3 linked regions of the Homo sapiens genome follow. The protein of the gene in region 1 purifies or fractionates together with the protein of each later gene. This does not show direct contact. Each region holds a gene or a part of one and is shown in the gene's direction. Other genes may lie near its edges. The genes, in order: BCAT2, MMP2 and SLC2A8.

Evidence for each region.
Region 2: the proteins of BCAT2 (region 1) and MMP2 fractionate together in Homo sapiens (co-fractionation; one large-scale study listed by BioGRID). This does not show direct contact.
Region 3: the proteins of BCAT2 (region 1) and SLC2A8 fractionate together in Homo sapiens (co-fractionation; one large-scale study listed by BioGRID). This does not show direct contact.

What each region holds. Positions count from the first base shown.
Region 1 is NC_000019.10:48,800,864-48,804,707, reverse strand, and holds part of BCAT2 (branched-chain-amino-acid aminotransferase, mitochondrial isoform a precursor), read left to right. Parts: intron 1-3,844. UniProt on the Homo sapiens protein: Catalyzes the first reaction in the catabolism of the essential branched chain amino acids leucine, isoleucine, and valine. May also function as a transporter of branched chain alpha-keto acids.
Region 2 is NC_000016.10:55,499,698-55,503,197, forward strand, and holds part of MMP2 (72 kDa type IV collagenase isoform 1 preproprotein), read left to right. Parts: intron 1-3,081; coding exon 3,082-3,191; intron 3,192-3,500.
Region 3 is NC_000009.12:127,403,669-127,407,168, forward strand, and holds part of SLC2A8 (solute carrier family 2, facilitated glucose transporter member 8), read left to right. Parts: coding exon 1-135; intron 136-290; coding exon 291-399; intron 400-1,149; coding exon 1,150-1,323; intron 1,324-1,751; coding exon 1,752-1,897; intron 1,898-3,443; coding exon 3,444-3,500.

The sequences.
Region 1 (3,844 bases):
GACAGAACGCACTGCTGTGATCCCGCGGGTCCAGGGGGCGGAAGGGGGAGGATGAGGGAGTAGGACAATGCTGTCCCTATGTCACCCACACTCCAGGGCATGTGTGGATTGCAGGCCGACCACGTGTATTATTTTTTATTTTATTTTTTCTTATTTATTTATTTAGAGACAGAGTCTCACTCTGTCCCCCAGGTTGGAGTGCAATGATACAATCTCGCTCACTGCAACCTCCGCCTCCCGGGTTCAAGTGATTCTCCTGCCTCAGCCTCCCCAGTAGCTGGGATTACAGGCGCCCGCCACCACACCCGGCTAATTTTTGTATTTTTAGTAAAGCCAGGGTTTCACCATGTTGGCCAGGCTGTTTTCGAACTCCTGGCCTCAAGTGATCTGCCCACCTCAGCCTCCCAAAGTGCTGGGATTGCAGGCGTGAGCCACCATGCCTGGCCTTATTTTTTATTATTGTGGTACTAATACGCATACATAATAACACACAGCATCAAATGTGGGATTCCAACCATTTTATTTGTTTGTTTGTTTGTTTATTTATTTATGAGATAGAGTTTCACTCTTGTTGCCCAGGCTGGAGTGCAGTGGCACAATCTTGGCTCACTGCAACCTCTGCCTCCCAGGTTCAAGTGATTCTCCTGCCTCAGCCTCCTGAGTAGCTGGGATTATAGACATGCACCACTATTGGCTAATTTTTGTATATTTAGTAGAGACACGGTTTCACCACGTTGGCCAGGCTGGTCTCAAACTCCCGACCTCAGATGATCCACCGCCTCATCCTCCCAAAGGGCTGGGATTACTGGCGTGAGCCACGGCGCCCAGCCTCCAACCATTTTAAAGCCCATAATTCAGTGGCAGGCAATGTTATGCAACCATCAGCACCATCAAGGTTCAGAACTGTTTAATCCCCCATACCTATTAATCAGTACCCATTGTCCCTCACCCCAGCCCATGACAACCATTAGTCTGCTTTCTGTCTTTGTCTACCTGTATTTGTTTATTTATTATCTTTAAATAATAGGGATGGGGTTTCACCATGTTACCCAGGCTGGTTTTGAACTCCTGAGCTCAAGTGATCCACCTGCTTCGGCCTCCCAAAGTGCTGGGATTACAGGCGTGAGTCACCAAGCCTGGCCACCTGCATTTTTGTTGTTGTTGTTATGACTCTTTTTTTGAGAAAGGGTCTTGCTCTGTAGCCCAGGCTGGAGTGCAGTGGCACGATCTTGGCTCACTGCAGCCTTGACCTCCCAGGCTCCAGCGATCCACCTGCGTCAGCCTTCCAAGTAGCTGGGACTGCAGGTGTGCACCACCATGCCCAGCTAATTTTTATTTTATTTTATTTTTTTTTAGGGATGGGGTCTTGTTATGTTGCCCAGGGTGATCTCAGATTTCTAAGCTCAAGTGATCCTCCTGCCTCAGCCTCCCAAAGTCCTGGGATTGCAGGCATGAGCCACTATATCCGGTGTATCCGGGCTCTTTTACCTGGGTTTTGTTTTGTTTTGTTTTTGAGACGGTGTCTTGCTCTGTTTCCCAGGCTGGAGTGCAGTGGCATGGTCTCAGCTCACTGCAACCTCCGCCTCCTAGGCTCAAGTGATCCTCCTGCCTCTGCCTCCCGAGTGGCTAGGACTACAGGCACACACCACCTTGCCCAGTTAATTTTTAAATCTTGTGCAAAGACAGGATCTCACTTTGTTGCCCAGGCTGGTCTCGAACTCCTGGCTTCAAGCAATTCTCCCACCTTAGCCTCCCAGTTCTGGGGTTACAGGTATGAGCCATCATACTGGGCCTGGAAATTCTTCTCTATACCTTAAAGCTTAAAGAGCTTTTTCCATCTTTCTTGCAGCCTCATGCTGTATCATCCTAACAATGCACCTCCTTAGGCAATCCCCTACTGTTGGACACTTAGGTTGTTTCCAGTCTATTATAAACAATTTTGCAATAAAGAATCTAGTACAGGGCCGGCTGTGATGGCTCACCTGCAATCCCAGCACTTTGGGAGGCTGAGGCAGGTGGGTCACCTGAGGTCAGGAGTTCAAGACCAGCTTTGCCAACATGGTGAAACCCCATCTCTACTAAATATACAAAAATTAGCTGGGTGTGGTGGCGGGTGCCTGTAATCCCAGGTACTCGGGAGGCTGAGGCAGGAGAATTGCTTGAACCCGGGAGGCGGAGGTTGCAGTGAGCCGAGATTGCGCCACTGCACTCCAGCCTGGGTGGCAGAGTGAGACTCCATCTCAAAAAAAAAAAAAAAAAAAAAAAAGGAATCCAGTACACACGTCCCTTCTTTAGTCACTTGTTTAAGTGCAAATGTATCTAGAGGCTCAATTTCGGGAACTGTAGGTCAAAGGATATGTATGCTTGTAATCTTGATACGTATCGCCACATCTACATCTACAGGGTGTGTCAGTTTCCACACCCACCAGCAGAGCCTGTTTCCATACCTTGGACAACCCTTGTCCAAGTTTTAGATCTTTTCCAATCTCCCATGTGGTTTTAAAGGTATCTCAAACTAATTTTAATTTGCATTTTTCTCCCTAGTGATTAATGAAATTGACTATCTTCTCACGAGCTTAAGGGCCACCTGTATTTCCTTTTGTGTGAACTGTCCATTTGCTAGGCTGATTTTTCTATCAGGTTAGGTTTTAAAAAATTCATCTGGGGCTGGGAAGAAGAGGCAGGGGGATTGCTTGAGCTCAGGAGTTCAAGACCAGCCTGGGCAACATAGTAAGACCCTATCTGTACAAGAAATTGGAAAAAAAAAAAAAGTCCAGTCGTGGTGGCTCACGCCTGTAATCCCAGCACTTTGGGAGGCCGAGGTGGGCGCATCACCTGAGGTCAGGAGTTCAAGACCAGCCTGGCCAACGTGGTGAAACCCCGTCTCTACCAAAAACACAAAAATTAGCCGGGCGTGGTTGTAGGCACCTGTAATCCCAGCTACTTGGGAGGTTGAGGCAAAAGAATTGCTTGAACCTGGGAGGTAGAGGTTGCAGTGAGCCAAGATAGAGCACTTCAGCCTGGGCAACAGAGTGAGACTCCATCTCAAATAAAATAAAAAATAAAATTCCCAATCCAAGATATAAAACAGTTATTTTTGTTTCCTTCTATAGCTTTTATGGTGTAATATATATATATATATTTTGTTTAGACTTTTAATGCACCTGGAATTTTTTCTGGTGTGAGGTGTGAAATAGAGATTCAACGTAGTTTTTCTCTAGATGGATATTTGGTTATCTATTCCATTATTCAGTCTGTCCACTCATATAGCAGTGTCACTCTGTTTTAAGTATTGTAGATTTATAATGTTTTACTACCTGATATGGCTACTCCCTGCCCCTGCCCCATCTTGCCCCTCATTTTTGTGGTGGTGGTTTTTATCCCCCCAAAATATTGTAGCTAGTTTTGCTTGTCTTCCATTCATTTATCTATTCATTCATCAAAAACCCACTATGGGAAAAAAAAAAAAAGTCTGGCTGGGTGCAGTGGCTCACCCCTGTAATCCTAGCACTTTGGGAGGCTGAGGCGGGTGGATCAACTAAAAATACAAAAATTAGCTGGGCGTGGTGGTGGGCGCCTGTAATCCCAGCTACCCAGGAGGCCGAGGCACAAGAATCACTTGGACCTGGGAGGCGGAGGTTGCAATCAGCAGAGATCACGCCACTGCACTCCAGCCTGGGTGACAGAGTGAGACCCTGTCTCAAAACAAAACAAAACAAAACAAAACAAAAAAACACTCTGTGCCAAGCGCTGCCTACCCTGGTGCATGGGACTGCAGGAGAGGCTGTCTGGTAAACGTGTCAAGGGTAATCCCTGCCTTCCAGGCTCTTCCACTCTGCAGTGG
Region 2 (3,500 bases), on another chromosome or scaffold:
TTGTTCAAGCTATAGAGATATGTGTATTTGCACAAAGCCAGGATTATAGCTACTTCTCTTGTATTCTAACTGAGTACCCCCTCCACTATACCTGCCAGTCCATTTGATTAGTGAGGAAAGAGTGGTCGGGGCACAAAGACTTGTGGTGTGTCTTTCCATCCCCTCCCTCCTGGTATCCCCACATTCCTTCCATGGCTGCCACTGCATCTGGGCCCTACCCAAGAATTTTAGAGGGCACTTCCTGAGGCCTTTGTCTGCCATCCCCAAAACAATCCCGCTTACTTCCTAAGGCCTCTGTCTTCTCCCCCTTCCCTCCTCCCCACTACTCTGCCCCCCAGCTGCCCTGCATTCAGAAACTCTTTATATCCCAGGCCTGCCCATGTCAGGGTGGAATTCCAGACATATTGCTAAGACACTTAGCAACCTAAGCTGATTGATATCTCAAGCCTCAAGAAAGAAAACAGTCAGGCAGGAAACCACAGAGCAGGCTTTCCACCCACCAGCTCCAGACACTAGCCCCAGACAGTGTGCACGCACACGCACACACACACACGCGTACTGCGAATGGCATCTCAGCATTGTAGGAGCCCTGAATCTCCAAGTCTTAGAATTGTGGCTGGTGAGCCGCACAGACTCACAGAAACGTGAATCTTAGAATCCTAAAGCCCTGAAGTTTTCAAATTATGGTGTTGGAAGAACTTTTTAAATCACTTTTCCATGCACTGTATCTATGTAAACATGCAAAAACAGACCTGTTCCTAGCATATAGGAACATGATTGTGTGCGCATGTGCGCATACACACACACACACACACACACACACACACACACACACACACACAGGCATGGAGGTTGTGGCAGTGCCTTGCTGGATTTCCAGGCAGAGTTATTTGCCTCCCAGTCCTTTTCCACACAAGCCCACCTCCCAAAGCCAGAGCCAGGACAGACAGCGTGCTCTACAGAGGAACCACCCTGAGACTTCCTGAAAAGGGACAGAGCTGAAGGGCCTATCAGAAGCTCTGGGCTGGCTTCCAAAGGAGACAGATCTCTATTCCAAGAGAAGTGGTGAATGAGCTTGTGACACTGGCCCTGCCGTGGAGTCTGCAGAGGCCCCAGAGGCATCTTTGCTGGAGAAGGAGAGAGAGCCCCAGAGTGACAGAGGCTGAGCAGCTGTCTTCAGCATGCCAAGAAGAGCTCAGGCCCTGCTTGTAGAAGCTTTCACTAAGCCACAAATATATGTTCCACATCTGCTGTGTGCCAGGCACTTAGCTAGCTGCTGGAGAGACGGGGGTCAAAAAATCATCACACCCTGCCCTCATGTAGTTTATAGTAGAATGAGGGAAAATTATGTAAACACATTTGAATCAGATAATGATGGCTCTCAGTATGGGGCCTCTACCATAGCCCAGCCTGAGGCTATGCAGGTCACCTATATTTCTCAGTTGAGGTAGATACTGTTAGCTCCTTTTCCCAAGTGTGGAAACTGAGGCTAAAGTGGCTCAAGGAAAAGCTGGGACACAAATATCTGTGTTCTTAACACCTGCTATACATGGCAACTTCTACAGCTGCAGAGAAGTACCACATCTTCTGACACCACAGTGCTTGTATTCTTTCTGGATGAAAAGAACTTGGAAGCAAACTAATTCTCTTATCTGAGACTCAGTTTCCTCATCTGTAAAATGGGCTTGACTTCTGCCATCCCCACCTTCTGTGGGTAGAATGAGAAAGAAATGAGGGCCAGTTCAAGTGTGGGACACACATCTCCAAACTATCCTAACGCTAGGGAATGTAGTTTGAGGGCTCAGTGGAGGTGCCTTGGATGGGAGTGTTGGGATTTTGAGCTAGGGAACTTGGTTTTGGTGACCCAGGGCATGAGGAAGCATGCCAGGTTTTGTAAGAATGAGTTTTATGCTGCACCTGGGATTAAGGAAGGCGTTAGTTCTTCGGGGTGATGGCTGAGGGAGAAGTCCCTTTGAGGGAGAAGTCTCCTCTAGAAGGGAGCATATAGGGAAAGCTGCTGTTGGGGTCCAGGGTGGAGGTGGTCAAGGCTGGCTGCAGAAAGGAAGGGAGCCCCCTAGGAGGCACTGTGGAGCAAAAGGTGGCTGCTACCAGGATGGGATGCGAACACAGATTCATCTAGAAACAGCTCCACTTGGGCAAGACTTGTTTACTAGGATATCCATAGCTCCCATAGTGGGAGCTCAGTAAATATTTATGGAATAATGAAGTGGAGAGGCAAAGGAATCAACATGACAGCAGCATTTAAAAAGTTCTCCAAAAATCTTAAAAGACAGAAGGATTGCTAGCCAGGGAGAAGAACATACTAACCGATGCCCAAAGTATTTACCTGAATTAAAGGCGGGGCCCAGGATTGCTGCCGCCGGAACTGAGGTGGCATGTGGCCCACCCTGTGACTAACAGGCCTTGGACTTACACGTACCTTCCACCTTGCATTGTAACCTCACTGCCCCAGCCATGGTCATCTCCCAGGGCAGGGACTGTCATCTCCCTGTGGCAGATGAAGAAGCAGCAATTTTTCCAAGCCATGAAGTGAAAGAATGATGGGGCAGATTCCCATCCCTGGGCTTCTAGTTTAGCACTCCTCGGATTACAGCAGGGATTTGTTTGTAAGGGAGCTAACATTTCTTAAGTACCTACTAAATATTTATGAGACATGGGGATAGAGGCTCTGCATGTGCTGTTTTATTTAATGCATGCATTAAATTAAATACACTAAATTAGACACAACCCCATTTTACAGCTGGTAAAACTGTAGCTGTATGGAAAGTGGTTAACACACTGTTTGGCATGTAGTAAGTGCTTTATAAATGTTAGCAGTAATCATGAGATTGTTTTTATGGGGTCATCCAAAGTCATATAATTAAAAGTGGTAGATCTGAGGCTCAGACTCAGGTCTGATTCCATGCCCTTCCTTCCACTGCAGCTGGCTGCTTCCCTGAAGGGCTAGGTCCAGTTTCCGAGGCCTATCCAGGAGCCATCAGCTGGGTGCTCCCATCCAGGCCAGGGGGGAAGTGTCCTTTAGAGAGGCCCTGCTGGTTCACTGTGTCTGTTTCTTTACAGATACAATGAGGTGAAGAAGAAAATGGATCCTGGCTTCCCCAAGCTCATCGCAGATGCCTGGAATGCCATCCCCGATAACCTGGATGCCGTCGTGGACCTGCAGGGCGGCGGTGAGCCACCCAGGACTGTCTCCGCTTTCTAGGACTCCCCGCCCCTAGCCAGGGCCCAGCTCCTTGCAAATACACACTTCTTTATTGTGCAGGGCAGGCAGGCAGGCGGCGCCCAGGAAAACAAATCAACTCCTTCATCCTAGTGCTGGGAAGGTTTCCAGATCCCTGACCTCTGCTCCTTGGCCTGGCTCCAGGCAGTAAGACCCAGAAAGACTTCTCACAGCTGCAGGGCCTGGAGCCAGGGCAGGGGAGGGCGGAAGGCCTGGGCCAGGGGAGAAGGAACATGGGCTCTGTGCCGTGGATTCATTC
Region 3 (3,500 bases), on another chromosome or scaffold:
CTGGCCCTGCTGCGGCAGCCCGGCATCTACAAGCCCTTCATCATCGGCGTCTCCCTGATGGCCTTCCAGCAGCTGTCGGGGGTCAACGCCGTCATGTTCTATGCAGAGACCATCTTTGAAGAGGCCAAGTTCAAGGTAAAAGGGCCCTGCCTGGCCTGCCTCGTCCAGCCCCCACATAGATGGAGCTTCCTCCCCAAGCCCAGGGCCCAGCCATCCAGCACAGGCCTGGAGAGGGAGGGACCCAGCTCTCAGCTGGCCCACCTGACCTGCCTGGGCTCTGTCTCCCCCAGGACAGCAGCCTGGCCTCGGTCGTCGTGGGTGTCATCCAGGTGCTGTTCACAGCTGTGGCGGCTCTCATCATGGACAGAGCAGGGCGGAGGCTGCTCCTGGTCTTGTCAGGTGAGGGTTCACCCCTGTGCAGCCTCCCCGCCATGCGGGGGAGGGCCTTCGCCAAGGCCACCACACTGCAGGAGGAGGACAGGGAGCATTTGTGATGACAAACATCATGGACTAATGCGGCCATGATTTGACAGCAGCTTGTCACCAAGCACTCACTGCAGGCCTGTCCATGCCAGTGGCACTCCCACACCACGCCTTTAACCTCTGTGGTGAACCCACCAGAAGGCACTCTCACAGCCCCAGCTTATGACGGGAAAACTGAGGGCCAGGAAGGTGAAGTGACTCAAGAGTTTGTGGGTCCTTTTGGACAAGTGACTTTACCTCTCTGAGCCTCAGTCTCCCCCTCTGGGAAGTGGGGGTAATGGCAGTGCCTCCCTCAGCACCATTTTGAGGAGTGGGAGGTGATCCACGTGAGGCCTTCAGCAAGAGCTGCGGCCCACGGACATTTGGTACCCAGCAGCTGCTGCGAAGACGACCGTCGGGGCTGAGGGTTACTCGCTGCTGCTTCTGTGCCGGTACCTCCCATTTCCTCGGCCCAGAGGGTCTGCTCCGGGAACTTTTTGCAGTTCGCTGAGGTCCAAGGCGGGGTGGCTGCCACCCAGTCAGGGCTTCTGCGGCCAAGGTGCCAGAACACCAAGCTGGCCGTTCTCTGGGAGCCGGGCCTGCCCCTCTCAGAGGCATCCAGGCCATGCTGCTGCGCCCTGGGCCGTTCCCCGGGTGCCCCGCCCACTGCCGCCCTCCCGCCTGCAGGTGTGGTCATGGTGTTCAGCACGAGTGCCTTCGGCGCCTACTTCAAGCTGACCCAGGGTGGCCCTGGCAACTCCTCGCACGTGGCCATCTCGGCGCCTGTCTCTGCACAGCCTGTTGATGCCAGCGTGGGGCTGGCCTGGCTGGCCGTGGGCAGCATGTGCCTCTTCATCGCCGGTAAGGGGGCCTGTGGGAGGCTGGGCGAGGAGTGGGAGGTGATCCCCCCGGCCCTGCTGTGGCGGCTCCCGGCAGGTGGGGTCTTCCCCAGCCTCACCTCTCCTCTCGTAAGTTCCAAGCTCTGCATTTCTAGCTCTGACCACATGCAGCTGTGGAACTAGGCCCCTCTGCGTTCCTTTCACTTAATCCCCTGAGCAGCCCTCGAGCAGGCCCCGTTGTGACCCCATCTCAGAGACAGAGCCTGTGCCTGAGGAGGGAAGAGGCTGGCCGAGGCCTTGGCAGGAAAGCATGGAGCTGGTGGGACCACACTGGGATCCGGGACCCCACAGCCCCACAGGCTGGGAAGCTGGGTCTCTTGGCTCTGCAGCAAGCTGAGGAGCCCAGCCCTGCGGACCCTGATGCCTGTCTTGCCTGTCTCGCTCCCACAGGCTTTGCGGTGGGCTGGGGGCCCATCCCCTGGCTCCTCATGTCAGAGATCTTCCCTCTGCATGTCAAGGGCGTGGCGACAGGCATCTGCGTCCTCACCAACTGGCTCATGGCCTTTCTCGTGACCAAGGAGTTCAGCAGCCTCATGGTGAGGGCAGGCTCCACCAGCACCGCGTTCGTGCAGTCAGCCGAGAAGCACTTTCTAAAACCACTTGTATTGCAGAAGACCCAGGGTCGTGGCCTTACATGCAGCCTGAGCCCCACCATGCCTGGGCCACTGGCCATCTTGGGCAAGGCGACGTGGAGGCAGATGGGCTAGGCCAGATGGGGAACCCAGGCTGTGACCCCTTGGGAGTCCTCTGCCTGTCTTGGCAGTCAGACAGCACAGCTGGCCTCTCCCCTTAGTGAACGTCAGGAAAGCGGGCCTTGAGCCTAAGGTCTTACATGGGAAGAGTTGACAGGGCTGGGCTGCAGCCCCACCCTGGCTACTTCCTTGCTGTGTGACCTTGGGTATGATGCTTACCTTCTCTGAGCCCGCTTCTTTGGCTGAAACTGGAGGAGAGTAACAGCAGCTTGCTCTTAAGACGGATGGGAGCATTAATTCAGTTCATCCTGTTGCTGCCTTCTCACGGATGGACTGGCACAGGTGTGGCCCCTGTCCCGGGGCTTCCCAGCCAACAGAGAGACAGTTCTGGGGTAGATGATCTGGTTGTTTGTTCAGTCATTTGTGCCCTCCAGGTCTCCTGGCATGTGCCATGTCCAGGCCCATTCAAGGCGCCAGGGAGAGCAATGAACAAGATGGACAGGGTCCCCTTTATGACAAGGACGGGAAAGGCCATGGCAGTGGTGGGAGAATGAACCCCAGTGGGGCTGGGTTAGGATGTGGTGGGGCGGGTCATGAGGGGCCAGCCTGGAGTCTGTGCAGAGCTTGGGACCCGCTTAGGCAGGACTGCCCGGGGAGCACATCGAGGGGGCCAGGCCGATGCCTGGGGGTGGAGATTACTTGCTGCAGCTGGGAGGGGATGCGCAGCAAAGGAAGGAGGAAAAGAAGCCAAGAAGGAGGTGACAAAGGACCTAACAGTCCTTTTTTAGGAGAGAAAATGTCCAAGAGGCCAAGAGAAGGCCTTCGAGGAGGGAGAGATCGCCAGGTCCCAGAGGACCAGGAGCTGAGAAGCACCTTTTTAGTTCTGGCACGTGGGAGGTCACAGTGGTGGTGGATGGCAGGGACAGGTTCTGACTGAAGGCCCCATGTGCTCCTGGGGCCATGCTCGCTTTGCCCTGTCTCACCCATTTCCACCACACTATGAAAGAACCCACCGGGGGCCTCAGGGTGGGGCCAAAGCTGAGGGTGGAGGGTTGGTCTGTGGGCCCTGGAGTCAGACCTGGAACAGGAGCCCAGCTGTCACTGGATAGCGGGTCTCTGGCCTTGAGGCAGTCACTTCATTGCTGTGAGCCTCAGTTTCCCCAGCCATACGACCTCGGTATCTTGGACAGTGCTCGGCCCAAGCCACCAGACTGGATGCCAGACTATCCTCCATGTCCCAGAGCTGGGTGGAGATAAAATGGGTGTGGCCTTGGGCAGGGCAGGCTGGGGTCAGGGGACTGGACCCCCTGGTGGCAGAGCTGTCTCAGTGATCGCGTGGGGCTTCCTGATCTCTCCCCGCGTCCACCCATGGCCTTTCCTCTCTCTGCAGGAGGTCCTCAGGCCCTATGGAGCCTTCTGGCTTGCCTCCGCTTTCTGCATCTTCAGT